Homo sapiens: one gene and its partners. The protein of the gene in region 3 interacts with the protein of the main gene of each other region in a biochemical or structural test. Each region holds a gene or a part of one and is shown on either strand. Other genes may lie near its edges.

Region 1 (3,974 bases), on a different chromosome or scaffold from region 3:
AGGCGCCCACCACGACGCCCGGATAATTTTTGTATATTTAGTACAGACAGGGTTTCATCATTTTGGCCAGGTGGATCTCAAACTCCTCACCTCAAGTGATCCGCCCGCCTCGGCCTCGAAAAGTGCTGGGATTACAGGTGTCAGCCACCGCGCCCGGCCTGCAGGCAGCTTTATACCCACCACTAGTTGTCAAGGTCACCCCTGCCACCACCAGTCCTCTGCCTTTGGAAACCATGTGCCCCTCCCCCCCACCACACTCTCTTATTCTAATGCCACGATTTACTGGGCATCTAATGCCACTCTATAAACTGGGGAGCAGGCAGAGCCCCATTTCAACCCCAGAGATCTGCTACCCCAGCAAGCTAGGGGCTGTGTCCAAGGTCAGACAGTAATGAGAGGCAGAGCCGAGTCTGGAATAGGGGTCTCCAGACTCACTGCGCAGTGCTCTTTCCACACCCTGCTGCAAAGCCCTGCTCCTTCTCATCTACTTTTCCCTTGTCCCACTCACTGTCCCCGAAACACACACACACACACACACACACACACACACAGCGTTGTGGAAAATGTAGGAGGCCCAGTCTAGCCTCTAGCCTTGTCTGCCTTGGCCTTTGACCTCTCCTTGGCCGAATGACATGCACCCCCCGCTGAGCGAGGTCACCGCAGCGGAGGAGGGTCTGCTGCCTCCTTGTCTCGGCTGCCATCCTCCTGCGGCTGCCTCCACCGGAGCTGGAAGGAGAGTGAGAGCCGACTTCCAGACTGATCATCGTGTCAGGGGCCAAAGGAAACCTCGGAGCCTTCCACCAAGTTCAACCCAAAACAGGGCGCCCCAGACGTCTCTGTCCAAGCCCGCGGGTCCAGGAGGGCCCCAGCAGCCTGGAGACGCAAGCTGCACCGGCACGGACGAGGGAAATTTTGTGGAAGGTGGTGGTGGTCGGCTCAGAGGTCTGAGATGGGTTGCGGAAAGGAAGGGTCCTGGCCCGGGGCGCGGGGACAAGCGGGAGAGGAGTGTTGGTGCAGGGCGGGCGCGGGGACGCAGGGTCCTCGAACCAGCTGGCCCGCCCCCACTCGGCAGAGGGTCTAGGCCTGGCCGCGTGTCGGTCGGCGCTAGGGCCCCGCGGAAGGCCCGGGCGGGCGGGGACCGGCGGCGGGAGCGGCGCGGCGCGGAGCTGCCTCCATCCATGGCACGGAGCGGCGGCGGCGGCGGCAGCAGGAGCCCGGCGCGATCCGCTAGGTCCCAGCCCAGCGCCCAGCGAGCAGGCGACGCGGAGGGGCCGGGCCTCCAGTGTCCCGAGGGCCGGGCGCTGAGACTCCGGCCGCGCAGCTGGGAGCTGCCCGCGCTGCGCTGACAGCCGCGCCGACGTCCTCCCCGCCGGGGCGCTCGCAGGACATGCCCCCGGGGCGCGGCGGCGGGGACCCCGGGGCTCGCCTCCGCCCAGGGCCCCCCTCCACGCCCTCGGGAGCCCCGGGCCCCCGCTGAGCACTCCTCCCGCACGCCTGGGTCCCTCCGGCCGGCGCGCAGCCCGGCCCCAGCGCTGTGGGTCCCCGCGGGGCGATGGGTTGATGGGCGCCGGGGGACGCAGGATGCGGGGGGCGCCCGCGCGCCTGCTGCTGCCGCTGCTGCCGTGGCTCCTGCTGCTCCTGGCGCCCGAGGCTCGGGGCGCGCCCGGCTGCCCGCTATCCATCCGCAGCTGCAAGTGCTCGGGGGAGCGGCCCAAGGGGCTGAGCGGCGGCGTCCCTGGCCCGGCTCGGCGGAGGGTGGTGTGCAGCGGCGGGGACCTCCCGGAGCCTCCCGAGCCCGGCCTTCTGCCTAACGGCACCGTTACCCTGTGAGTACCCTACCAGGCCAGTTCCGTCCGAGCCGGGACTGGGGACGAAGGGAGGCGAGACGGGAGGGGTGGGAGCAGGGGGAAGGGGGCTATCCCCCCACTTCAGAGATTTCTGGACAGGCCTGGGTTCAGGCCCCCAGAGGGGAAGATTGGAGGAGCAGGGGAGAGACTGGGGCTCCAGGAGCGTGGAGGCGGGAAGGGGCTGCGGGGGACAGGCGCACCCCAGAGAAAGGCACCGCAGGCGCCCACTCACCTGCACAGGTGAAGTGGAGAGCACGCCTGCAGGGCACCCACGCCCCGGATTTCCAGCCTGGACTAGGGTTGCGGACTTTGGGGACCTGAGAAGGGTGAGAGCGGGGAATGCTCAGGAAAGATCGACGCTCGTGGCCCAGGAGGGGGCTGTGGTCCTAACCACTACGGTCGCGTCCCGGACTGGGCTGGAGGAGTCTCCGGATTTACCTGGCTGGCCTTGTCCCTTCAATTGGGGTCATCCCATCCTTGCCCCCTGGCCTGCCAGCGCCGCTTCCAGCCGGTCTCCTTAGGGCAAGGGGAGGCTGGGCTCAGAAAAGTCGGCCCTTGGAATACCGGCGCTCCTGGGCTGCAGGAGACCCTGGCGTCCCCATCCCTCTAGAGGCCCCTCTCCCACGGCGCCGTTTGTGCAGTGAGCTCTGTGCTGGGTCCCGCGTCCTTGCCTCTCCTTTGCCTCTCCTGGAAGTAACTCGAGCTTTGGCTGTTTCTCCATTGACTTCGCGCAAAGATTGCGAAGAAAGAAACGCGGCTGGGGAAGCGGGGTTCCCTCACCGCAGCCCACCCGGGCCTCCTTCCGCGACTTCCCTCTTAGTCAGGGCCTCAGTACGCCTTTGCTTTGCTGGCAGCGAGCGCTGCAGCGCCGCAGCCCGACCCCAAGCCTCCTACAAGGGGGTCGCAAGTCCCAGCAGCCGCGCGAGCATTGGCGACCCCTCCCCACCGCAGAGATTTCCTGCGCCGACCACGTGCTCGCAGCTCCACGCACGCCGTGGATTTGAGGGTCGGGCCCCCGCGGCCGCCGCTTCCTTTCCTGTCCCAAATCCAGCCTAAGAGCCGCTTCCCTTTCCCTGTCCTCCTGACCCCAGTGGCAACCGTTTCTCCACCGCCCCTTGCCCGCAGTCGGGGCTGGCCCAGTCTTTTCGATTGTGTCCAGAACAATACAGTAACGCCTCTGGTTGGGTGAGTTCAGAGGCTGCCCGCTTCCTGACAGGACACAACTGGTCAGCCTCTGACGCTGGCCGCCCGGCCTGCATTTTCCCCGGCCCGGGTGTGTGTGTGCATGTGTGTGCCTTAAGGGTGGAGGCGGTGTGTCTGCTCGCTGCCGCCTCCCTGCTGCTCAGGGTAAGGCTGTGGCCAGGGAAGGCACCTGTGGCTGTTCAGGGCAGCTCTCTCTGACTGTCCGCTGGGGTTTGAGGGTCCAGGCAGGCCTGGGCATTCCCCAGCTCACTTAGTTCTGGAGGAGAAAAATGCTTGCTCTGCGGAACAGTCGGTAGCGTCTGCGTGAGTCCCAGCTGCATAAGAATTCAGAGCTGAGGCCGGGTGCGGTGGCTCAGGCCTGTAATCCCAGCACTTTGAGAGGCAGAGGCGGGTGGATCACGAGGTCAGGAGTTCGAGACCAGCCTGACCAACATAGTGAAACCCCGTCTCTACTAAAAATACAAAAATTAGCCAGGCGTGGTAGCGCGCGCCTGTAATCCCAGCTACTCAGGAGGCTGAGGCAGGAGAATCGCTTGAACCCGGGAGGCGGAGGTTGCAGTGAGCCGCGATCACGCCATTGCACTCCAGCCTGGGCGACAGAGCGAGACTCCGTATAAAAAAAAAAAAAAAAAGAATTCAGAGCTGAGAGCTGTGCGTGCATGTGTGCACACTCTTGTGTCTGCTCATGCACATATGTGGGATGTGTGTTCTCTGCGTGTCTCTGTGTCAGGGTTAGGGAATCCTAACATATCAAAGGCAGAAGGAAGTGGGGGAGGCGGTAGATAGAAAGGCAGTTTTGCAGTACATCTTAGAATGATCAGGCCATGGTTAATTCCTATCCACGCCACTCCACAGAGAGAGCTGGGCCAGCTCTTGGTAAGAATACATTAGAACCGGCTGGCAGCAAAGGTGACCCCTAGCTCA
Region 2 (3,500 bases), on a different chromosome or scaffold from region 3:
CCATCTCTACTAAAAACACAAAAATTAGCCGGGCATGGTGGCGCCTGCCTGTAATCCCAGTTACTAGGGTCTGAGGCAGGAGGATCGCTTGAACCTGGGAGGCACAGGTTCCAGTGAGCCAATATCATGCCACTGCACTCCAACCTGGGCCACAGAGTGAGACTCTGTCTCAAAAAAAAAAAAAAAAAAAGAAAAAGAAAAAAAAAAGAAAAAGAAAAAAGTGAGTTAGAATTATCTCTACAATCATCAAAAAGCGTAGACAACAGAAAGCAATAAAAAAAGCCAATAGATCATGTCAAAAGGCTTTGCATCCATCATTTCGTTCCTTGGCTTAGCCTTAAACAGGAAGGAAAAATGAGACCAAAAGTATCAATTAATGAGGTTAAAACAACTGGTGATTGAAGTAGAATATGTATCAGATCTATCTTAGAGCTATGACTGATGTATAATGTAAAATGGTACTTCAGTTCAGATCTAAATTCTTAACTTCACTTTGAGTAATTTTTGTTTCAATAATCAAATTAAATTATTTAAATATTTAGCCCACAATAATCAAAGGTATATAACTTGCATCAATTGTTTTTGTACATTTTCTGGTAATTTTCTGAGTATAAGAGTGTGAAAAATATTCATGAAAAATCATATTGTAGTTTTAACTGGAAAGTACTATTTTAGTGACTATGAAGAGTGGTAAACAAAAGGGGAAATAAAATTTAAACTGTTATTTCATTATTTTAATATAGGTTACTTGAATTTCCACTAGAGGAGCAGAAATGCCACCAATGCCAAGTGCCCCACCTGTGCATCCACCTCCAGATGGAGGATGGGGTTGGATTGTGGTTGGAGCAGCTTTTATCTCCATTGGATTTTCCTATGCATTCCCCAAAGCTGTCACCGTATTCTTCAAAGAAATTCAGCAAATATTCCACACTACCTACAGTGAAATAGCATGGATTTCATCCATTATGCTGGCTGTTATGTACGCAGGAGGTAAGCTTCTTGCAATAAATAGAATCCTGAATTAAGAAAATAATTCCTCCATGTCACAATGTTTTACATGGAGTGTCTTGGTATATTAAAACCCTGTTTTTATGTTATAGTCACTTAAAACCAATCAAAAGTATAATTAGAACTGAAATTTCAATGATTTTAGTGATTCAGCATCTTAAGCTATTTGCTTCGAATTGAGTCTTAATGGAGGATTTGTTTGAATAAGAATTTGTAAGCACAAAGCAAGATTTACTAAATTATGGAATTTCTAAGTGAGGCTACTTCATTTAGTTTGAAATAAAGTCCACAACATATTGCTGATGTCATTTTTCACAATCGCTACCTCTGGTAGAAATGCTTTCTTCTGAATGAGAAGAAAATTTAAGTTGCTGACAGTTTATAAGCCCAGAAAGTACATCACTTTAAGCTGCAAAAATGAAGGGTTAACATGTACATTCTAGACCCATTCAAATTTGTGTGACTGAAATAATTATTTATCTCTATAAGGCTCATTAAATAGGACATCTTTTTAACTTAAATTGTTGCTTGGAAATTATCTTATTACATTCTATGTTCAAATGAGGGTATTAGTCATGAAGGATAATGAAGAAATCAAAGTACCATCCCACTTCTAAATGTTGCAAATTTGGAATTATTGGTGCCTTATTATGTCATCTATTTTCTGTAAATCAATCTCAATAGCAGACCAGACTCTCTTGTAGAATTTTTTGAAAGTCATTACTTAAAATATGTCTTTTAGCGTTTTTATTTTTCAAGTGGATATTTGACTTTAAGGGATAGATATAGACTCAGACTATAGTCATTTAAAGAAATTATATCAATTATCTTCTGTGATTTCTTATTTTTCAAGTAAGGATAATATGGCTCTTAGTCATGAAAATATAACATTAGTATAATATCCAGTATTTAGTAATATTTACTTTCACCCAAGGCCTAAGTACTTAATATGTGTGATATGACTTAATCCTCTTAATGATCCGTGAAATAAGTATTATCTTCTCTTTATTCCATAGCTAAGGAAATATATACAATAGCTCTCCCAAGTCAAACAACTTGTTAGTAGTAAACAGAGACTGTAACTCCTAGCATTTAACACCTGTGGTCTCTGACTTTCTCATAACTTTCTCTTTACATCTAGAGAGTGACAAAGCCAGATCTGGCCCAGGCCTTCTATAAACCTGATTCAATTCTTTCTACTTCAGCTCAGTGGCTTGTGTACCACCTCCACCAATGTCATTTGTTCAGTGACATAATAATTATTCTTTAGGACATTATCTTTTTGTTGTACTACGAAGGTAAACAGTTGATCCTGAAATAATTCCCTGTGTGTGTGTGTGTGTGTGTGTTTATGTGTGTTGGTGTTGGAATGTGTTTTATACTTTTTATATATAGTGACTTTATATTAATACAGCATATGTTTCCCTTATTCATTTGGTTAGGTTAAACATGCATTTTTCTTCCAGTATCAAAAGGTATCCTTTAAATACTATTTGGGCGTGTCAATGGAAAATTCTACTTCTAACACACATTCTATGAATCTCCTTTGGACAGTTGCTTTATAGATTGTAAGAATGTTATTTCTTGTGACCATAGAAACAGTAGGTATTGTAGAGTAGATATTCCTGTATCCTGTGGGACAGGTGTTGTTTAATAATGTTTTGCTAGAGCAGCACACAGTCATCTTGATTTCAGCTCCAAAACGTGCTAATATTAAGATATGTAGAGGGTTTTCTTGCCTCTTAAATACAATTGAAACAGTCTCTTCTAGTGAATTAATATAAGTCCATTGAATTTGAACTTCAGGTCTTACATAGTCATAATTCCTTATTGAGCAGATAGTTGACTAACTCATCAGTAGGACAAAATTTTATATACTGTTTTAATTAAGCCAAATCTTAATTTACATTCTCTGTTAGTTTTCAGACCTCAGAGTCTTGATGACTTAAAACAATACAGGTTATTTCTTTCTGAAGCAATGTTTCAAAAAGTGGCTATTCCATCACCCAAGGCTTTGTATGTTGTTCCCTAAATCTGCTCCATCTGTTGGACAAATAGTAAAGGCAGACAGCATGGAAGATCATATGGACTATTTTAGGGGGTATGCCTGGGAGGAATAAACATTATTTCTGTACATATTCTATTGATCAGAACTCTTATACTGCCCTACCCAGAGTTAGGGGCCATGGATGCTGGGAAATACAGCCTTCCCAAAGGAAGAAACAGAACTACATAACATCTAGCCAGTCCTAGTCAGAGCCTGGTATCTCAATATTCTCCATTGAACAAAAGAAGCATGTGTTTATAGACTTGCCTATGACAGCCCTCCACCCTCTGGCTGGATCTAAAAGGAACATTAGAATGAACAATGGCATAATTAACTTTCTCAAACCACTAAATCTCAATATGAAATTATAAAAAGTAAATATACTATATTTACTACAAATAAATGTTTTTATTTTATTCATACTTATTTTTCTATTTTAATATAT
Region 3 (4,152 bases):
TGACTTTGGGCAAGTGACAAAACAACCCCGTAATATGGGTGATCCTACCTTGTACCTTGCATGTGCCAGGCCCCAGGAGTGAGGCTAGAAGCTGAGAAATGACTCACACCCAGGCCTCTACTGACTCCTCAGGGTCCAAGCCAGACCCCTCCAAGAGGGCCAGCAAGCAGCCAACCCAGTTGCCTCCCCTGAGCCTCAGTTTCTCCAACCAAGGAGCCAGGGTGGGCCTTGATCTATCTCCAGACCACATAGGGGCCTGAGGTCTTTCTTGGGGAAGGGGTTGGCCCAAAGACCGCACTGGCAGAAGTCCCAAGGTGCTGAGGCCCCCATCCAGAACACACTGTCTCTGGGGTACAGGCTGAACATGCCACACGTGCTTCCCCCTCCCTGCCCCTCCTGGCCCTGTGTCTAGCAGCTGAGCAAATGGCGTCTCCTCCCTTCTCCCTGCCCCCTGCCATTCCTGCGCAAAGGGCACGGGGCCTGGCGTGTGGCACTGGCAGCTGGAGCTTTCCATGCTGCCGTCAAGTTTTCCAGAGCACAAAGACAGGAGAGCCAGGAATAACTGGCTGGGCCCCCAGAGGGTCTGGAGGGGATGGGCCTGCCTCAGACCTGCTTTCAGACCCTATGCCAAGGGGTGCAGGCAGAGGGCCAGCTGCCCAGGACCAGGGCTTTGGGAGGCTTCTGTGGCTACTGGGAGCCCATTATCTGGCATGCATTCTGTAGGAATCAGCCCAGGCTCCAGTGTGACCTGGGTCCACTCCTTGTGTGACCTTGGAGAAGTCATTTAACCTCCCTGAGCTTTGTCTCCTGCGGGCCCAGGTGGCAGCTTCTCAGGATCCCAGGGAGTGAAGGGCCCATACTGAGGTTGGCTATGCCCAGAGCTGCTGTTATGATGATCGTTTTTATGGCTGGACAACCCTGGGCCAGTCACAGACCAGCTGGAGGCTCAGCTCAAGCCAAGGCACCTCCAGGGCCCCATACTGGATAAAGCACAACCCCAGAATCCTGGCCAGGGACCACACGGCAGCAAAGCCCCTACCCAAGGGAGCTCAGCCCCTGGTCTTCTGAGCAAGAGGATGGGTACCACTGGGCAGGAAGAGCGAGTGTCTACGCTCTCCAGAGGACACAGGAGCAAGGAGACCAGAGCATTCTCACCAACCAGGCCAGTTCCCCTTCCTCCCCCCTGGGGGGTGCTGGGTGCCGGACACCCCTCCCCAGGGGCTATATTAGCCGTGTGAGTCATGGTGGACCGGCTGGGAGGCGGCAGGCTGGCAGGCACAGTGTAGGGTTACAGTCCATTTATGGGCGCAGCCGAAGGCAGATATCAGTGTCGATGGCATTCGCTCCCAGCTATTCTTAGGAGCCTCTCAAGAGCTCCACGCAGCCCGGCTGGGCAGCAAGGGACAGAACAGGCAAGGCTGGGGGTCAGGGGCAGGGGCAGAGGTGTGGACCGGGCAGGCGGAGTGCCTGAGTGCCCTCTCACTCAACCCTCTCTACCCTTTGTCTGCAGAGGCGGCCGCTGACAGCACCAGCATGTCTTACAGTGTGACCCTGACTGGGCCCGGGCCCTGGGGCTTCCGTCTGCAGGGGGGCAAGGACTTCAACATGCCCCTCACTATCTCCCGGGTGAGTGCACCCTGCCACAGCCTGGCACCCGATGGGGCAGGCACGCTTGGAGGAGGGCATGTGTGTCCGTCTGTCTGTCTGTCCTTTCTGAGCCTCTCAGAAAGCAGAGCATGCCCCATCCCCTGGGACTGGCCTGGTCCTCTGGTCTCAGCCACAGCTGTTTGCTCACTGGAGCGCGCCGGCCTGTTATGCATGTGAGACATCATGAGCAGGTGGTAGGTGTTTTTAGCAGAGAAGAAAATGCTGAGTTTTCAGGCAGGCAGGCAGGCAGGCAGGCAGGTAGCTGGACAGAGAGTACAGCACCTTCCTGATCCCTTTACTGTTAGAGTGGGCTCAGGGTGCCCCCAAGCCTTGAGCATTTCCCTAGATATGGGCAGCTGCTTTGGGAAGGGAGTATTCCCAGCATGGAGAGGGCAGGTGATGGGCAGTTGGATAGATGGACAGACAGACGGTTGACCTTGGCTGCCCAGCTGTCAGAGTGTGGGGCTGGGCTGGACTGAGTACTGGGCACCTGCTCCATCCCAAACTTGAGACACCAAGACCCTGGCTCATGGGGCTGGGCGCTTCTCCCCATTCACCATGGCTGCTTTGTCTGTCTCAGGTCTTGTTCCCCACAAGTGCTGGGGCCTGGTGAGATGGCCCCCTATCCTGCAGTGTCTGTGATGGGGAGCAGCATGGCCTGATGCAGATGACACAGAACATCAGGGGTTGTCTGAGTAACTCTACCGCCTGGCTGGAGACAGCAACACCAGAGAGGCAGAAAGTTAGCCATGCTCCTGAGGAAGCACTCCAGGAGCAGGGACTGATGGGGGAACAGCCCCCAGACCGTAGTAGGCACTCCGTCAGTTTCTGTCAAACAAAGAGACTCCCCAGCAAGGCACTGGTAGACCCAGGGCTGAAGGCCCCAAGGCTCAGGGCGAACTGTGAGGCATACAGGGCAAGGACAACCCTGCCTGGTGGCTGAGCCCCTGACCGTGCTGTTCCGGGCACAAGGCCAGAGGGGGAGGCCCCCAGTCTGTCACTGGAGGGTGGTAGGTAGGCAGGGGTATCTGGGCTACTGCCCACCAGGGGAACAAGGGGACAGTTTCTTCTCTGGGGCCTTAAGGACTTGCCTTGGGCCTGGGGGCTGGAGGAAGGGGTTGGAGGGGAAGCACTGAAGTGGGCAAGGCCTGAAGGGGCTTGGCAGAGGGGCCAGGGAACCTGGGCAGCGGGTCAGGAGCCAATGCCCCCAGTGGAGGAGTAATCTTTTTTTTGTTCCACGGGTACTTGAGGGGACCCCAGAAGTAGAAGCCCCACCCAGGGATGCCGTGAGAGCCTTATAATAGCCATAGAGGCCACATGCTTACAGGAGGGGTGCTGGCCTGGCTCTGGTGCAGGGAACAGGCCCTGACCTCCATCCTTCAGTTGCAGATGTGGCTTGTTCTAACCTGGAGATTCCACCCCTCCAGATCTACTGCCCTGGAGACCACAGGGTCCTGGGCACCCACAGCCTTGCACACTTTGCATGAGGTGGTGACCTGTGAGCATGTGAGCCCCAGTGGATTTCCCACTGCCCTTTCCCACAGCTCCCCACCCCCATGCTTGCAGGACTCCTTCCTGTATAAGGTGGAGCCTCTGTGTGCTCTCTCATGGGCCCTGTGGCCTCCCCTGCCTGGGACTGAGCCCACATCTCCCCCAGCTCCACCATCTCGAGGCCTCCTGCTGGTGCTCCCTGCCCTATCCCTATGGGTGCAAATTGGCCACTGGGCTCAGTGGCACTCAGGATAGCCAATGACCTCACCCAGGGTCTATGTGCCACCTGGCCCCGGCCAGCCAGGGGCTTAAATGGCAGCCCAGAAGCCTTAAGCTAGATAGCAGGAGGAATGTCCTTACTCTGGGGAGGGGGTATGCAGGGATGTGCTGGATCCAATGACTGTGGGGACTTCTAAAAATAGAACCCGAAGCTCGGGCAGGGCACCGGGGGATGGGCATGATATGGCCTCTCGGCTTCCTTTAGGGGCATACCCCAAATCACCTAAGCCGCGGAGCAGGCTGGACTGGGTACTGGAGCCTTCCCCAGGGCTCGGAGCCTCTTGAGAAATTTTGGTGGTAGGCTGCTGATAGCCTGGGCTTGTGTCCTGGTTCAGTGCCGCTGGCAGGGCAGGCCTTGTGGACACAGCCCTGCCATCCCACCAGGGCTGTAGGATTTACTGCCGGGGCTCGCAGGGCCCTTCTGCACCAGGGACATCCCCCTACGGGGGAGGCATGGCCAGAGCTCTCTGGAGGAACCCCACTCCCACCCCAGCCAGGACCTGAGCCTGTGCCATAGGGCACCAGAGGCAAGAGTGTGTGACCCTGTGGGGTGGGCAGGCAGGCGAGGCTGGGATCGTTACCTCGCTTCAGAGCCTGGCAAACTGAGGCTCGAGTCTGCTCACAGGACAGGGATGTCCATGGGTGGATCTCCTGTATCCTGTCACCCCTAACTCCCATGCTGGCTTGCTCACCCCTCTAACTGGGACTAATAGAGAGGCACTGGGGAGGGTCTGT
Region 4 (4,193 bases), on a different chromosome or scaffold from region 3:
AATCCATGGCATGGTAAATTTGGCATTTGTGGTAGGGCAGGATTTATACTTGCACAGACTGGCATTAGCTCCAAACATTAGAGGAAGGTTGGAAAGAAGCAATGCCAGGCAGACCAACTGGGCTGTGTGGAAGTGAAGCTATCAGGCATACCAGTGACTTTAGTGTGTAGCCAAAAGCAATAGACACTGAATCGTGGTGGTGACTTATGGTCCATGAATCACAGGAGAAATGTCTCCCTTCATTTATTCCACAACCATTGATTGAGCACCTACTATATTCCCTGAAAGAGAACATAAACATGAATTGAAGAAGGTTCTTGCTGTCTCATGGCTCCCAAGCTAGAAGAGGGCTGACTTGTAAATGCCTCACAGCAGGGTTCATGTTATATGGAGAAGTGACGAAGGTGCCAGAAGACTCAAGCTAGGGGACAGCCATTAGCTGCTGGAGGCAGCTAAGGTGGGTTCCCAGAGAAGCCATTCTCCGTTACTGAGATGGGGGCTGCAGTGACCTTGACCACAGCTCTTCCATTCATGGACTGCCCCAGCTCTGTGGTCTCTCTGCTAACCAGCCAGACTCTGGGAGTGGCCTATGCCGTCAGCCTCAGGGCCATTTAAACCAACTGGTCATTGGCAGTGATTGTGCGAAAGAGTGGCTGGCGGCAAAGGAGGGTTTGTGTTCCATTCAAATACCCTCAAAAAGCCTGAAAAATAAGTAGAGATTGAGGCCAGGCCTTGGAGTTGTGGAAGGTGGAGAACACTGGGAAGCCAACCTCCAAAGAAGACCAGGTTGGAGGCAAAGGAGGAAGGGGAGCTCTCGTTGGCAAACCAACAGGGAAGCCAAGGATATCCCAGTAACTGCTCTCACATCCTTGATGAGAATGCCTTGAATCCGAGCTAGGCCACCTCAAAGAAGCCTGCAAAATAAGTAGAGATTGAGTGCCTGCTGTTCAAACACAACTCAAGCGCAGTCCTCCTCCTCTTTCCCACTGGATTGCCCCCAAGTCCCTCCTATGGGGGACTCCTTCTGAAGTCTCTGCTGTAAGTCAAATCCTTCGCCCTTTATACTTGGTCAGGAAGTTGCAAGCTTCCACAGGTGATATACTAGGGAATTTAGGAATAAACAAATGGAAATAAATTCAAGAAAAGGAAAATAATAAAAATGATCATCCATAGAGTGGAGAATTCAGATAATGGACCCTCAACCCCAGCTTCACACCTGGGACCCCCACTTGGTCATATGGACCCTGGCAGTCTCTAATCACAAGTCTGTGATCCCTTGACTTAAACTGTTCTTCCCCAAATGTAGACATGGGTGGGGCTCAGAAGGGAGGTGTCATCTGATGTGGTTTCCTTATTTCCGTTTATTCATCAAGTGCCCTCTAGCTGTTAAGTCACTCTGATCTCTGACTGCAGCTCCTACTGTTGGACACACCTGGCCGGTGCTTCAGGTAGGAAGCCACCTCTGTTTGCTAGGACTTTCTGTGGGGTAGGGCTGCTTGGCTTGACTTTATTTTGGAAAATGTATTCATTTCTGTGGGAGCTGAGGATTTCTGCTGCCCGCTTCCTCTCTTGTGACCACCACTCATACATGGAGTTAGCAGGTGAAGAGGACAGCCTCCTCATCCCCTCTTTTTATACCTTGCCCTTTTGTGGGAAGAGGCTGACCATTCCCCAATTTGATGTTTATTGCTTCACCTTAAGACTTTGTCTTCAGTGAAAATGCAAATACTGGTAGGGAGGGAACACACTAAAATGTGTGGATCTGAGTGGACTCATCATACACCCTCAGGCCTGGCAGCAAATGAGAGGTGGATGATTCTGTCTTCCTCGATTTGCAGATGAGAAGACTGAAATCTATAGGGGTACGAGACCCCACTCAAGGTCATGAGACTTATTTATTTATTTATTTATTTATTTTGAGATGGAGTCTCACTCTGTCGCCTAGGCTGTAGTACTGTGGCACGATCTCGGCTCACTGCAACCTCCATTTCCCGGGTTCAAGTGATTCTCCTGCCTCAGCCTCCTGAGTAGTTGGGATTACAGGTGCACGCCACCACACCCAGCTAATTTTTTTGTATTTTTAGTAGAGACGGGGTTTCATCATTTTGGTCAGGCTGGTCTCGAACTCCTGACTTCATGATCTGCCTGCCTTGGCCTCCCAAAGGGCTGGGATTACACACGAAACTTATTAATGGTAGAATCAGGATGGAATGAAGACTGGATGCTAGGTGTCTTTACAACCAACCTCGGTGACTTTCCAAAGGCTTTCAGACTTCTCTGGAGAGTCCTGGAGCTTTGAGGGGCTCTTTAGGGGCCATCTGGGTTCGGAGATTAGCACACTCTGCCCCACAGTGGCTCAGCTTTTATCTGCTTCACATACTGGGCTTCTGGGAAGATCTTATTTCAGTAAACTATTTCACAATAGGAAATATATTTGAAAACTCTTGAATGATTCTGTGGATTTTTTCAGGGGTGGAGGGTTTCAGGGACCAAGATGGAGACTTTATCTTCTCAAATACTTAAAACTCCTTTAGACAGAGGAACAAAATATGTGCTCCTCATTTAAAGAAGGCTTAAAATATACAGTTTAATGCAATGTGTTGTTATCACTTCCTTCCCCCAGTAGATTTTAAGGAGGGTAAACAAGAATCAGGGAGAACATAGGAATAGAAATAGTAGAAGGGGACACCTGGGAACAGGTTTGCCTTCTTGCATTTTGCTTAATGCTGGCCCTTCCCTGAATGTCTAAGACCAACCTGGTCCCCACATCCAAATGCACAGACACAGCTGAGGATGGAGAAGGCTAAAGAGGGACAGAGGTAGAGACATAGGCTGAGAGGAGGCAGTTGTAGGTTGAGCTAGGGCTAAGGTGTTTTCCCCATATTCCATCTTACCCCACACTCAGGCCAGGCCTTAGAGTTGTGGAAGGTGGAGAACACTGGGAAGCCAACCTCCGAAGAAGACCAGGTTGGAGTCAAAGGAGGAAGGAGAGCTCTCATTGCCAAACCAACAGGGAAGCCAAGGATATCCCAGTAACTGCTCTCACATCATTGATGAGAATGCCTTGAATCCGAGCTACTAAATCACATTTCCTTCCTTCTAACCTTCCAGTTAGATCAAACCATTGCTGAAACTGAAGAGGACATGTCAAATATTACAGATCCACAGATGTGGGATTTTGATGATCTAAATTTCACTGGCATGCCACCTGCAGATGAAGATTACAGCCCCTGTATGCTAGAAACTGAGACACTCAACAAGTATGTTGTGATCATCGCCTATGCCCTAGTGTTCCTGCTGAGCCTGCTGGGAAACTCCCTGGTGATGCTGGTCATCTTATACAGCAGGGTCGGCCGCTCCGTCACTGATGTCTACCTGCTGAACCTGGCCTTGGCCGACCTACTCTTTGCCCTGACCTTGCCCATCTGGGCCGCCTCCAAGGTGAATGGCTGGATTTTTGGCACATTCCTGTGCAAGGTGGTCTCACTCCTGAAGGAAGTCAACTTCTACAGTGGCATCCTGCTGTTGGCCTGCATCAGTGTGGACCGTTACCTGGCCATTGTCCATGCCACACGCACACTGACCCAGAAGCGTCACTTGGTCAAGTTTGTTTGTCTTGGCTGCTGGGGACTGTCTATGAATCTGTCCCTGCCCTTCTTCCTTTTCCGCCAGGCTTACCATCCAAACAATTCCAGTCCAGTTTGCTATGAGGTCCTGGGAAATGACACAGCAAAATGGCGGATGGTGTTGCGGATCCTGCCTCACACCTTTGGCTTCATCGTGCCGCTGTTTGTCATGCTGTTCTGCTATGGATTCACCCTGCGTACACTGTTTAAGGCCCACATGGGGCAGAAGCACCGAGCCATGAGGGTCATCTTTGCTGTCGTCCTCATCTTCCTGCTTTGCTGGCTGCCCTACAACCTGGTCCTGCTGGCAGACACCCTCATGAGGACCCAGGTGATCCAGGAGAGCTGTGAGCGCCGCAACAACATCGGCCGGGCCCTGGATGCCACTGAGATTCTGGGATTTCTCCATAGCTGCCTCAACCCCATCATCTACGCCTTCATCGGCCAAAATTTTCGCCATGGATTCCTCAAGATCCTGGCTATGCATGGCCTGGTCAGCAAGGAGTTCTTGGCACGTCATCGTGTTACCTCCTACACTTCTTCGTCTGTCAATGTCTCTTCCAACCT
Region 5 (3,500 bases), on a different chromosome or scaffold from region 3:
GATGGAGCTGGGTGAGGGAGGAGGTGGGGGCCCTGGGTCTGGGAGCTGGAGAGGGGCATCCTGGGATGCCATGGGAGGGCGCTGACTGTGCACCCCAAGGCAACCCCAGGCCCATGATGTGGTGCCTGTCCCTGTCCCCCCTCACCCCATCAGCCTGCGTGCAGCGCTGGCCCTGCCTCTACGTGGACATCTCCCAGGGCCGTGGGAAGAAGTGGTGGACTCTGCGCAGGGCCTGCTTCAAGATTGTCGAGCACAACTGGTTCGAGACCTTCATTGTCTTCATGATCCTGCTCAGCAGTGGGGCTCTGGTAGGCACTGCCTGGGAGCACGGGTCAGGGGCAGGGGCCAGGCCCACAGCAGGTCCTCTTGGGGCTCCCTGTCTCCACACACAGGAAGGGCCATGCTCTGGTCAGTCCCAAACCCTGAGAATCCTAAAGGAACTCGCTGTGCCTCCGGGATAGGTTATAGGATGTGCTGACTTTCTAACATGGCAGAGGTGCCTCCCTTATTACGTGGGTGCTGACTTTTGTGCACTCTCTGCTGATAAGGAGGCAGGAGACCCCTGGGAACTGGGGGCGCAGGACTGAAGATGTGTCACTGTGGACCTGCCCAGCAGATGATGGCAATTTGCTGTTGTTGGGCTTGGAGAAGGGGGGCTGAGGGATTCTCCCCACTGGGAAACGCTCTCATCCCCATGATGGGTGGTGGGAGTCCAGGAGATGCGGACAGCCTGTCCCTTGGGCTGGGCCCCCACGGCAGACCCCCGGGAACCAGCAGCATAGAGCAGGGCAGGGGACCTGGCTGCCACCCCAGCCTGCTGGACCCCAGCCACCCTGGTGGTGCTGGTGCCCCCAGGCCTTCGAGGACATCTACATTGAGCAGCGGCGAGTCATTCGCACCATCCTAGAATATGCCGACAAGGTCTTCACCTACATCTTCATCATGGAGATGCTGCTCAAATGGGTGGCCTACGGCTTTAAGGTGTACTTCACCAACGCCTGGTGCTGGCTCGACTTCCTCATCGTGGATGTGAGTCCCCCCACGCTGGCCCCGTAGCTACATCCAGAGGCTGTCAGTGTGGCGGGGACCTCAGGAAGCCCACGCCCTGAAGGGCAGGACCTGCCCGAGGCCACCCCCAGAGTCAGACCCTCAATCAGTGCTGCCCTTCTCAGACAGAGCTGCCCAGGGAGGGGTTAGGGACTGGGAGGCCTTCCCTTCTCCTCAGGGAAAGGAGGCCTTGGGGGAAGACAGCAGGCAGGAGGGCTACTTACCATCCCTGCCAATAGGAGTGGAGGAGTTTCTTACTTCATACATTTTATTTATTTATTTTTAAGATGGGATCTTGCTATGTTGCCCAGGCTGGTCTTGAACTCCTGGGCTCAAGCAATCCTCCTACCTTGGCCTCCCAAAGTGCTGGGATTACAGGTGTGAGCCACCATGCCCGGCCAGGAATGGAGGATTTTCTTAGCCTCTTAGATGGGCTCACAGGCCTCCCCGAAGGAGTCGGGTACCATCCCTCCTACTCACAGTCATCCCCAGTTGGTTGATGACATCACTGAGGTGGTGCCAGGCTCCTACAGGTACTGGGACAGGTCCCAGGGCTGCTCTTCCCACCGGACAGGACCACCCACTAGGGAGGGGATCTAAGGGAGACAACCAGGAGCTGTGAGTCCAGGAAGACCCCCGTGGCCTGGGCTTGAGGGGAGGCTGGGGGCCTTGCACGCACTGATCCCCTCACCCCTCCCCTGCAGGTCTCCATCATCAGCTTGGTGGCCAACTGGCTGGGCTACTCGGAGCTGGGACCCATCAAATCCCTGCGGACACTGCGGGCCCTGCGTCCCCTGAGGGCACTGTCCCGATTCGAGGGCATGAGGGTGGGTGCTGAAGGGGCCTCTGGGGTGGGCTGGGGATGGGGGACCGGCCACCTTCACTGCAGGGTGGAGGGTGCATGTCTATACTCCAACCACCACCAGAGGGAAGCAGAGAGCTTGGACCCACGGCCCTGCCTGAGGCCAGGTCTGGCCCCCACCTCCCCTAGCTGTCCTCCCCGCAGGCCATCTTCTGCCTGCCCCATTCCCACTCTCAGCCCCCGATCCAGCCCGCCCTTAGCTTACCTCTGCCACTACTTGAGGGGAGCAGAGACTGCAGAAGCACCCAGGAGGGCCCCACGGCCAGGGAAGAGGAGGAAGGAAGGCAGGTTTATGTGGTGTTTATGGGTGGTTTATGAGTGGGTTTATGGGTGGCCCTCCCCAGCCTCAGACTGAGCCACCCAGGGCTTTGAAACAAGGTGCCTGCACCCTGGCTCTGAGCCTTCCCCTCACCCCCCACTGATGAGCTTGGCGTCACGGTTGGGGCCATGCCCTTGAGCTTGGGGTCAGTTTGGGGAAGATCCACTCAGGCCCTGGAGAGCGGAAGTGGCAGGTAAACACAGGGTTGCGGCGGGGTGGGGGGGGGGGCAAGAAAAATGGGACTTCCCCAGGAAGAGAGATCTGCTGGGAGCAAGACCTGCTCCAGCGGGACAAATTTCTGCAAATCTAGAGGCCATGGCGAGCCCCCCCAAGCGGCCCCTTCCTGTCCCTGCAAGAGGCCAGCCGAATGCTGGGCCCTCTGACCCCCCAGAGCCAGGGAGCCCTCCCGTTGAGGGGAAACAAGCTGCCTGTGGCCATGCAGCTGGTCAGTGCCCCAACCAGGAACAGAGCTCCCCTGGGCACACCAGGCTTGTGCCACCCACTCTAGAGGTCATGAAATGGCTCCTCCTTAAAAAGAGAGGGGTGTCAGATCCAGCCCAGTCTGCAGTGGTCAGGTGGGCTGTGTGACTAGGGCTGGTGGGGATGGGGCTTCTGTCCCAGAGCTCCTGCTGCTTCAAAGACCCTGGTGCCCTCTTTTCTGTGCCTGTGTCTGGGGCTCTGGGGCTGAAAACCCATGAGCAGGGGCTGGGTCACGTGAGCTGAGTTTCCTATGGGGGCTGAGCAAAGAGTGTTTGTCTCCTGCCTGGTGACCTGTGACCAGGCTGCTTCCAGAGAAACCCAGCACCCCTACTCTGGGCTGATGGCTCCAGTCAAGCAGAGAGCCCTCTTGACCACCAGGCCTGCAGCTCCCTCCCCCTCCCCCTTACCACCCCCAACCTGCACACACACAGCCCAGCAGGTCGGCCCTCCTCTAGGAAGCCCTCCCTAATTGACAATGCCCAGCTCTGCCTGGTCCCCTGGGTGGCGTAGAGATGTGGAGCCCTCTCTCAGAGGCTGGGAGAGGCACTGGCAATGGACCCCCTGGCCCCCAGGTGGTGGTGAACGCCCTCCTAGGCGCCATCCCCTCCATCATGAATGTGCTGCTTGTCTGCCTCATCTTCTGGCTGATCTTCAGCATCATGGGTGTCAACCTGTTTGCCGGCAAGTTCTACTACTGCATCAACACCACCACCTCTGAGAGGTTCGACATCTCCGAGGTCAACAACAAGTCTGAGTGCGAGAGCCTCATGCACACAGGCCAGGTCCGCTGGC
Region 6 (3,936 bases), on a different chromosome or scaffold from region 3:
CTGCCGGGTTCAAGCAATTCTCCTGCCTCAGCCTCCTGAGTAGCTGGGATTACAGGCGCCCGCCACCATGCCCGGCTAATTTTTTGTATTTTTAGTAGAGACAGGGTTTCACCATCTTGGCCAGGCTGGTCTTGAACTCCTGACCTCGTGATCCACCCACCTTGGCCTCCCAAAGTGCCGGGATTAGAGGCGTGAGCCACCGCGCCTGGCCGCCTTGTTTTTTTTTTTGAGATGGAGTCTTGCTCTGTCCTCCAGGCTGGAGTGCAACGGTGCGATCTTGGCTCACTGCAACCTCTGCCCCCTGGGTTCAAGAGATTCTCCTGCCTCAGCCTCCTGAGATTACAGGCACCCACCACCATGCCCGGCTAACTTTTGTATTTTTAGTAGAGACGGGGTTTCACCATGTTGGTCAGGCTGGTCTCGAACTCCTGACCTCAGGTGATCCACCTGCCTCGGCCTCCCAAAGTGCTGGGATTACAGGCGTGAGCCACTGCGCCCGGCTCCTTGTTTGTTTTTAATGAAAGGTTTTAGTTGATTCTTAGTCAGTGTGATTTTTTTTTTTTTTTTTTTGAGACAGGGTCTCGCTCTGTCGCCCAGGCTGAAGTGTAGTGGCGCAATCTTGGCTCACTGCAACCTCAGCCTCCCGGGTTCAAGCGATTCTCCCACCTCAGCCTCCCTAGTAGCTGGGACTACATGTGTGAGCCACTATGCCTGGCTAATTTTTTTGTATTATATAATTAGTAGAGGTAGGGTTTTGCCATGTTGGCCAGGCTAGTCTTGAACTCCTGGCCTCAAGTGATCCACCCACCTCAGCCTCCCAAAGTGCTAGGATTACAGGTGTGAGCCACTGCGCCTGGCCCAGTCAGTATGATTTATTGAGCTCCTACTATATCCTTGCGAAAGCCTCTAGGAACATGGATATTTAGAAATCTGTAAGACCCAATTCCAGCCCCAGGAATTCACAGTACAGTGGGCAGCCACGAGTTAAGGCTAAGAATTGCTGAAGAGCTGTAAAAATAAAGCAAGTTTTCTTGTTTTGGAGAATAATCACAGAATTCGGTTTAAGGATTCTATGTGCTGTTGCAACTCTAGAATTTGTTGTTGTTGTTGTTGTTTGAGGCAGGGTTTCACTCTGTTGTCCAGGCTGGAATGCAGTGGCGTGATCTCAGCTCACTGCAACCTCTACTTCCTGATATCAAACAATCCTCCCACCTCAGCCTCCCAAGCAGCTGGGACTACAGGCATGCACCACCATGCCTGCCTAATTTTTTTTTTTTTTTTTTTTTTTTTGTAGAGACAGAGTTTCACCATGTTGCCCAGGCTGGTCTTGAACTCCTGGGCTCAAGTGATCTGCCCACCTCAGCCTCCCAAAGTGCTGGGATTACAGGCCTGAGCCACTGTGCCCGGCTCATCATTTTTATATGGTAGAGGTTTAAGTCAGGAATTTAGTTAGAAGGGATTAATCAGGAGTCTTCTTTCTGGGCTACCTTTACCTAGCAAACATCCTGTGTTTACTTAGACTAGGGTTCCTCAACCTCAGTAGTACAGACATTTTCAGCAAGATAATTCTTTGTTCTGGTGGTTGTCCTGTGCATTGTGGAATGTTTAGCAGCATCTCTGGCCTCTGCCTGCTAGATGCCAATAGCACCTCTCCCTTCAGATATGACAACCACAAATGTCTCCAGATATTGCCAAATTTCCCCCAGGGAGGGCGGCTAATCATTGCAGGTTGAGAACCACGTACAGCATGTTTATGATAGAAGGGAGAGGACTGTCAGGCAGTTTTGTGTGTGTTTTTAAACAATTAAAGGGCATTGCCAATACTGTGGATTTTAGCTTCTTTGGAAGTTTGATGTGAAAGGAGGCAAAAATCCTTCTTGCACATCAGCTTAAGGTTTTGCCCATATCGTATTCAAACAAAACCACATGGCTGGCACATAGTGGCTCTCAATAAATATATAATAAGTTGAATGCACTATTCAGCACATAGCTAAAGTGGTGGTGCCTCCAGGGAGGGACGTGAAACTTAAAAAGGAAAGACTGGAGTAGCTACTCAGGAGGCTGAGGCGAGAGGACTTGAGCCCAGGAGTTCGAGGCTGCAGTGTGAGCTACGATCCAGCCACGGCACTCCAGCCTGGGCAACAGCGGACGCCCAGACTCAGAATCCATGACAGACTCTGGAGCGAAGGAACAAGTTCAGGGATGTTCCACAATCACGCGATTCCCAGGACAGGAAAGGGGCCGGTGGGGGTCGCAGAGCTCGACCAAATTCTGGGCAGACTACTCATCCGGCGGCAGGAAGAGCGCGGCGCGCACCGGGCCCGCGCGCACCGGCTCGCGCCGCACCCCCGGCCGGAGAAAGTCGCGCTTGTTCTGCGCCAGGCACAGCAGCCGCCCGGGCTCGGTGTCGTGGCCGTCCAGCACTTCCAGCTCCACGGCGAAGGGCGTCCGCACGTCGCGCTTCACCAGCCGCACCAAGGCTTTCTCGGGCTCCAACGCCCACAGCAGCCCCATGGGCTGGAGCCCCGCGAAGCTGCCTCCCAGCGCGGGCGCGCGCTCCAGGTCCAGCTCGTCGCGGGCGTCGGCACGGTAGCGCGCGTGGGCCCGGAAGAGCGCGCCCTCTTCGTCGCGCAGGGACGTGCGCAGCGTGACTGGCTGCTCCGGGGCCAGGCCGCGCACTGCGATGCGCAGCGGCTCGTCCCAGCAGCAGCGGCCCGCGGGCTCCAGGATCAGCGTCGCTGCCATCCCAATCTGGGTAGAACAGGGGCGACCCAGCTCCGCGGAGTCAGTGGGCGGGCCTGGCGGCTTTGCCGAGCGCTGGAAAGTAGTCGAGGGCGGAGCCCTTAACACTACTCCCATTGGTTGGACTTGGGGACAGGCTCCAGGCCGCTGCGTGGGGCGCCTAGAATTTGTGCAAATACACCAGTGTCCCAAATGAAAGAGTATCTGCTGAAATAAGAGTTAATGACCAATCCGGCCGGGGGCGGTGGATCACGCCTGTGATCCTAGAACTTTGGGAGGCCGAGGTGGGTGGATCACACCTGAGGTTAGGAGTTCAAGACCAGCCTGACCAACAGAGTGAAACCTCATCTCTACTGAAAATACAAAATAGCCAGGTGTGGTGGCGCATGCCTGTAATCCCGGCTACTTGGGAGGCTGAGGCAGAAGAATTGCTTGAACCCAGGAGGCAGAGGTTGCATTGAGCCAAGATTGCACCATTGTACTCCAGCCTAGGCAACAAGGGCAAAACTCCGTCTAAAAAAAAAAAAAAAGAGTTAATGACTATTCCTGCAATCCAATGTGGTGAGTGTCGAAATAGAGGCACAAAAACCACTGAGAGCTAAAGGATTGAGAGAGATACAGTCCAAGAATCTAGATTTTGAAAAAGCATCCCAGGTGATTGTACTCAGGTGACCCCTTGGAGAAACATGGTCGTAATCCGTCCTTTACCCCTCAGTCCCTTACCAAGCCTTTTTTCCAGGGCTAATGGTACCTGGAGCAAAGCAGATGTTTAGGGAGGCAGACCTAGCCGAGTTCTGGTCTGACCCTGATCCTTAATATTAATACCTGGTGATCTTTAGCAAGAAACATAACCCTCTAAATTCAGTTTTCTTATCTGAAAAGGCTTATTGTGACCATTAAATGGGCTAATGTGTAAAAACACTACACTGACACACCTGTAGGTTAGTACCCAGTGAAAGTTTTGTTTTGTTTCTTACCTCACAAATCTAATCACTGGCAGAGTCCATTTTGGGTTGTATGCATACAGAGTTCTGGCAGTAAGCAAGTGGCACTCTCAGCCTGTGTAATTGAGGAGAGTTTTATAAAGGTACTATCTACAAAGGCATGGGCAAGATTTAAAAACAAAAACAATGAAACAAGATTCGGTGTAGAACCCTGAATCTGAAGGTTCAAGGGAAGGGGGCAGTCTGATAG
Region 7 (3,500 bases), on a different chromosome or scaffold from region 3:
TAATTACAAGTTGTAAGCAGGGTCACCCCATGAAGCAACTTGTGTGAATTACAAAAAGGAGCCCTCTGGGCTGATATGGCCCTGAGCTAGGCTTCAAGCCTGGCCAATGGAGCGAATCTCAGCCCCTGTCCCTGCTTGGCCAGTGCTCTTGTGTGGGTCCCAGCCTATACCCCATGGAGTATTTTCTCCTGGTAAGAATTTGGAACGTTATAAATAAATAAAACCACGACCCCCATTGATCACCTGCCCACATGAATCCCAGGAGGAGCATTTACCCCACAGCCACAGCTCTGCAGAGTTGGTGACTCCTTGATGCAGTCAGTCACAGGGATCCAAATGTGGCGTTGGGGAGAGGTAGGAATGGGCTCCTGCGGCTCCCCTACAGCCAGCAACACTTACCTGTGGTCAGCACACATCCACCCTCCCTCTCTCCTGCTGCCTGAGCTCCTCCCTTGGCTAAGTCCTCCTTATCTATCTGCTTTCCTTGTGTCTCAGTAGAGGCTACTGACCCAACTTTGCTTGGAGCTGAAGCTCCAGAGACAGGGAGGGGTTTGGGGAGATCCAGTTAGACTCTCCTGCTCAGACCCTCTGCTCCAAACTAAGACTGATGTTGGCCTTCCAGTGTGATTCTGAAAGACATTTAATGTTTTTTTTGGGGGGGGAAGGAATGCAAAGGTGCAGAATCCCTGAATACCACAAATGTACTTTTCATTTCTATTTCTATAGATTTGCCTATTCTGGTGGTAAAGTAAATGAAATCATAAATATATGCTTTTCGATGTCAGGCTGTATTCATTTCTCATAATGTTTTCAAGGTTTATCCATGTTGTAGCATGCATGAGTACTTCATTCCTTTTTACCACCTAATAATATTCCATTGTATGGATATACCACATTTTGTTCATCTGTTTATCAGTTGGTAGATGTTTGGGTTTTTTGTACTTTTTGGTTATGAATATTCATGTACATGATTTTGTGTGAACATGTGTAAATTCTCTTGGGTATATACCCAGGGGTGGAATTGTTGGGTCATGTGGTCACTCTATATTTAACAATTTGAGAAACCGCCAAACTGTTTTCTAAAGTGAGAGCATTGTGTAGGGATTTATTTATTTATTTTTGAGACAGAGTCTCACTCTGTTGCCCGGGCTGGAGTGCAGTGGCGTGATCTCAGTTCACTGCAACCTCTGCCTCCCAGGTTCAAGCAATTCTCCTGCCTCAGCCTCCCAAGTAGCTGGGATTACAAGCATGTGCCACCATGCTGGGCTAATTTTTGTATTTTTAGTAGAGATGGGGTTTCACCATGTTGGCCAGGCTGGTCTCGAACTCCTGACCTCAGGTGATCCACCCTCCTCGGCCTCCCAAAGTGCTGTGTGGGGTTTTAGGTTAGTCACATCCCGCTGACACTTGTGATTGTCTGTTTTTTGTTTTAGCCATCCTAGTGGGAGTGGTATCTCATTGTGGTTTTGATTTGCATGTCTCTAACTACAAATTATATTGAGCACCTTTTCTGTGTTTATTAGTCACTTATATATCTTCTTTGGAGAAATACCTGTCCAAATCCATTGTCCATCTTTCAACTGGGTTGTCTTTTTGTTGACTTATCTCTTATCGGATATCTGATTTGCAAATATTTTATCCCATTCTGTGGGTTACCTTTTCACTTTCTTGATGGTGTCCTTTGAAGCACAAAAGTTTTTAATTTTGATGACGTTTAATTTATCTTTCTTTGTCCCGGTGCTTTTGGTGTCTCCAAATATTATTGTTGAATTGTCCTCCTTTCAATTCTATCAGTTTTTGTTTTATATATTATGGGGTTCTGTTGTTAGGTGCATATATGTTTATATTCAAATTGCTTCTTTTTGAATATTTGTCCTCCACTTAAAAAAGATAGCCTACTAGCCTGGCAAGCAGCATCATTTCTTCTGACCTCTTTTCTACCTCATTCTGGTTATTCTTAGTTCCGATCCTGCCCCAGCCAATGGAATAGCCACTGTACAAAATCAGGGTCAGAGCAAACCAGCTAAGCATGCTCTCTGCTCAGCAACCAGGGCCTTGAGAAGTGGATGCTTGGGTGTCCTTGAAGTTCTTCTGTCTGCCTTGAGCCCGCCTTCTGACCAGGTCCCCTTGACCAGGGCTGGGCCGAGTTTGTGGTTCTTAGCTCTGAGAAGGTGAGGGCAGGGGCAATAAGGTTACTATGCCCCTAGAATGACGCCATCAATCCTGAGGACTTCCCAGAACCTGTCTACAAGAGTTTCCTCATGAGCCTCTGTCCTCGGCCAGAAATAGATGAGATCTTCACTTCTTAGTGAGTTTCTTGGGTTGTGCTGGTCATGGGAAAAGGGTGGTGGCTAACAATCCCCTCCTCCCACCTGCCATGCCGGGAGTCAGGAGGCTTCACTGGACAAGGGGGTTGTCTAAGCCTCCAGGCCCAAGGGATATGGACCTGTGCTCTTCTCTCTGGCTTGAAGCCATGCTAAGGCCAAACCCTACATGACGAAGGAGCACCTGACCAAATTCATCAACCAGAAACAGCGGGACTCCCGGCTTAACTCCCTGCTGTTCCCGCCAGCACGGCCTGACCAGGTGCAGGGCCTCATCGACAAGTATGAGCCCAGTGGCATCAATGCACAGAGGGGTGAGGACTAAGGGAACCCCTTGTCCCCTGTGGTCCTGTCCTGCCTTGGCAGCGGGGTTGTAGCCTGACAGCTATCTCCTGTCCCCCAGGCCAGCTGTCACCTGAAGGCATGGTCTGGTTTCTCTGTGGGCCAGAGAACAGCGTGCTGGCCCAGGACAAGCTGCTGCTCCACCACGACATGACGCAGCCACTCAATCATTACTTCATCAACTCGTCCCACAACACCTACCTGACAGGTGGGCCCTGATAACATTGGTGCCAACCTCTGCTTTCACAGGGGTTCCCTGCATCCTCCACAGGGGTTGCCCACATGCTGCTGGCCCTGAGAATAACACAGACCATGATGGAGTGGCGGTAGGGGGAGAGCTGGGCTGCCTTTGGGTGATGCCCTCACCTCTTCCCCATCCTCTGGCTCAGCCGGCCAGTTCTCAGGCCTCTCCTCGGCTGAGATGTACCGCCAGGTGCTGCTCTCTGGCTGCCGTTGCGTGGAGCTAGACTGCTGGAAGGGGAAACCCCCTGACGAGGAGCCCATTATCACCCATGGCTTCACCATGACCACAGACATCTTCTTCAAAGTGAGACCCTGGGCACAGAGGCTGGTGGCCGTGGCAGTAGGGAAGGGCTCTGGGCCAGAAGCTTTGAGGGGTTGGAGGGCTGAAGCTAGAGAAGATGAATGGCTGGAAGGCCTCAGACCATTGGGGACCAGCAGGGATTGGGGGCCAATGGCGGCCATGCAGTTATATGTGTGTATTGAAACTAGGCAGGGGGGAAAAGTGCTATCACGAGACAGGCAGTCGGAACGCTGACCTTCTGTTCATGGAGTCTCCTTCTCCTCCAGGAAGCAATTGAGGCTATTGCAGAA

What was found.
Region 1: the proteins of LDB3 (region 3) and ADGRA2 interact in a test that uses a peptide from one of them, tested with the Homo sapiens proteins (one large-scale study listed by IntAct).
Region 2: the proteins of LDB3 (region 3) and SLC16A7 interact in a test that uses a peptide from one of them, tested with the Homo sapiens proteins (one large-scale study listed by IntAct).
Region 4: the proteins of LDB3 (region 3) and CXCR1 interact in a test that uses a peptide from one of them, tested with the Homo sapiens proteins (one large-scale study listed by IntAct).
Region 5: the proteins of LDB3 (region 3) and SCN4A interact in a test that uses a peptide from one of them, tested with the Homo sapiens proteins (one large-scale study listed by IntAct).
Region 6: the proteins of LDB3 (region 3) and ACOT6 interact in a test that uses a peptide from one of them, tested with the Homo sapiens proteins (one large-scale study listed by IntAct).
Region 7: the proteins of LDB3 (region 3) and PLCB2 interact in a test that uses a peptide from one of them, tested with the Homo sapiens proteins (one large-scale study listed by IntAct).

The regions. Positions count from the first base shown.
Region 1 is NC_000008.11:37,795,709-37,799,682, forward strand, and holds the start of ADGRA2 (adhesion G protein-coupled receptor A2 precursor), read left to right. Parts: upstream 1-1,174; 5' UTR 1,175-1,560; coding exon 1,561-1,826; intron 1,827-3,974.
Region 2 is NC_000012.12:59,704,029-59,707,528, forward strand, and holds part of SLC16A7 (monocarboxylate transporter 2), read left to right. Parts: intron 1-743; 5' UTR 744-773; coding exon 774-990; intron 991-3,500. UniProt on the Homo sapiens protein: Proton-coupled monocarboxylate symporter. Catalyzes the rapid transport across the plasma membrane of monocarboxylates such as L-lactate, pyruvate and ketone bodies, acetoacetate, beta-hydroxybutyrate and acetate.
Region 3 is NC_000010.11:86,667,159-86,671,310, forward strand, and holds the start of LDB3 (LIM domain-binding protein 3), read left to right. Parts: upstream 1-1,352; 5' UTR 1,353-1,412; exon of another isoform or gene 1,413-1,510; 5' UTR 1,511-1,533; coding exon 1,534-1,626; intron 1,627-4,152. UniProt on the Homo sapiens protein: May function as an adapter in striated muscle to couple protein kinase C-mediated signaling via its LIM domains to the cytoskeleton.
Region 4 is NC_000002.12:218,164,163-218,168,355, reverse strand, and holds the start of CXCR1 (C-X-C chemokine receptor type 1), read left to right. Parts: upstream 1-1,393; 5' UTR 1,394-1,448; intron 1,449-3,111; 5' UTR 3,112-3,144; coding exon 3,145-4,193. UniProt on the Homo sapiens protein: Receptor to interleukin-8, which is a powerful neutrophils chemotactic factor. Binding of IL-8 to the receptor causes activation of neutrophils. This response is mediated via a G-protein that activates a phosphatidylinositol-calcium second messenger system.
Region 5 is NC_000017.11:63,945,419-63,948,918, reverse strand, and holds part of SCN4A (sodium channel protein type 4 subunit alpha), read left to right. Parts: intron 1-153; coding exon 154-308; intron 309-855; coding exon 856-1,029; intron 1,030-1,751; coding exon 1,752-1,874; intron 1,875-3,280; coding exon 3,281-3,500. UniProt on the Homo sapiens protein: Pore-forming subunit of Nav1.4, a voltage-gated sodium (Nav) channel that directly mediates the depolarizing phase of action potentials in excitable membranes.
Region 6 is NC_000014.9:73,611,381-73,615,316, reverse strand, and holds the start of ACOT6 (acyl-coenzyme A thioesterase 6), read right to left. Parts: upstream 2,801-3,936; 5' UTR 2,746-2,800; coding exon 2,285-2,745; intron 1-2,284. UniProt on the Homo sapiens protein: Catalyzes the hydrolysis of acyl-CoAs into free fatty acids and coenzyme A (CoASH), regulating their respective intracellular levels.
Region 7 is NC_000015.10:40,297,936-40,301,435, reverse strand, and holds part of PLCB2 (1-phosphatidylinositol 4,5-bisphosphate phosphodiesterase beta-2), read left to right. Parts: exon of another isoform or gene 1-769; intron 770-1,961; coding exon of another isoform or gene 1,962-2,027; exon of another isoform or gene 2,028-2,190; intron 2,191-2,207; coding exon 2,208-2,308; intron 2,309-2,471; coding exon 2,472-2,638; intron 2,639-2,727; coding exon 2,728-2,874; intron 2,875-3,055; coding exon 3,056-3,213; intron 3,214-3,476; coding exon 3,477-3,500. UniProt on the Homo sapiens protein: The production of the second messenger molecules diacylglycerol (DAG) and inositol 1,4,5-trisphosphate (IP3) is mediated by activated phosphatidylinositol-specific phospholipase C enzymes.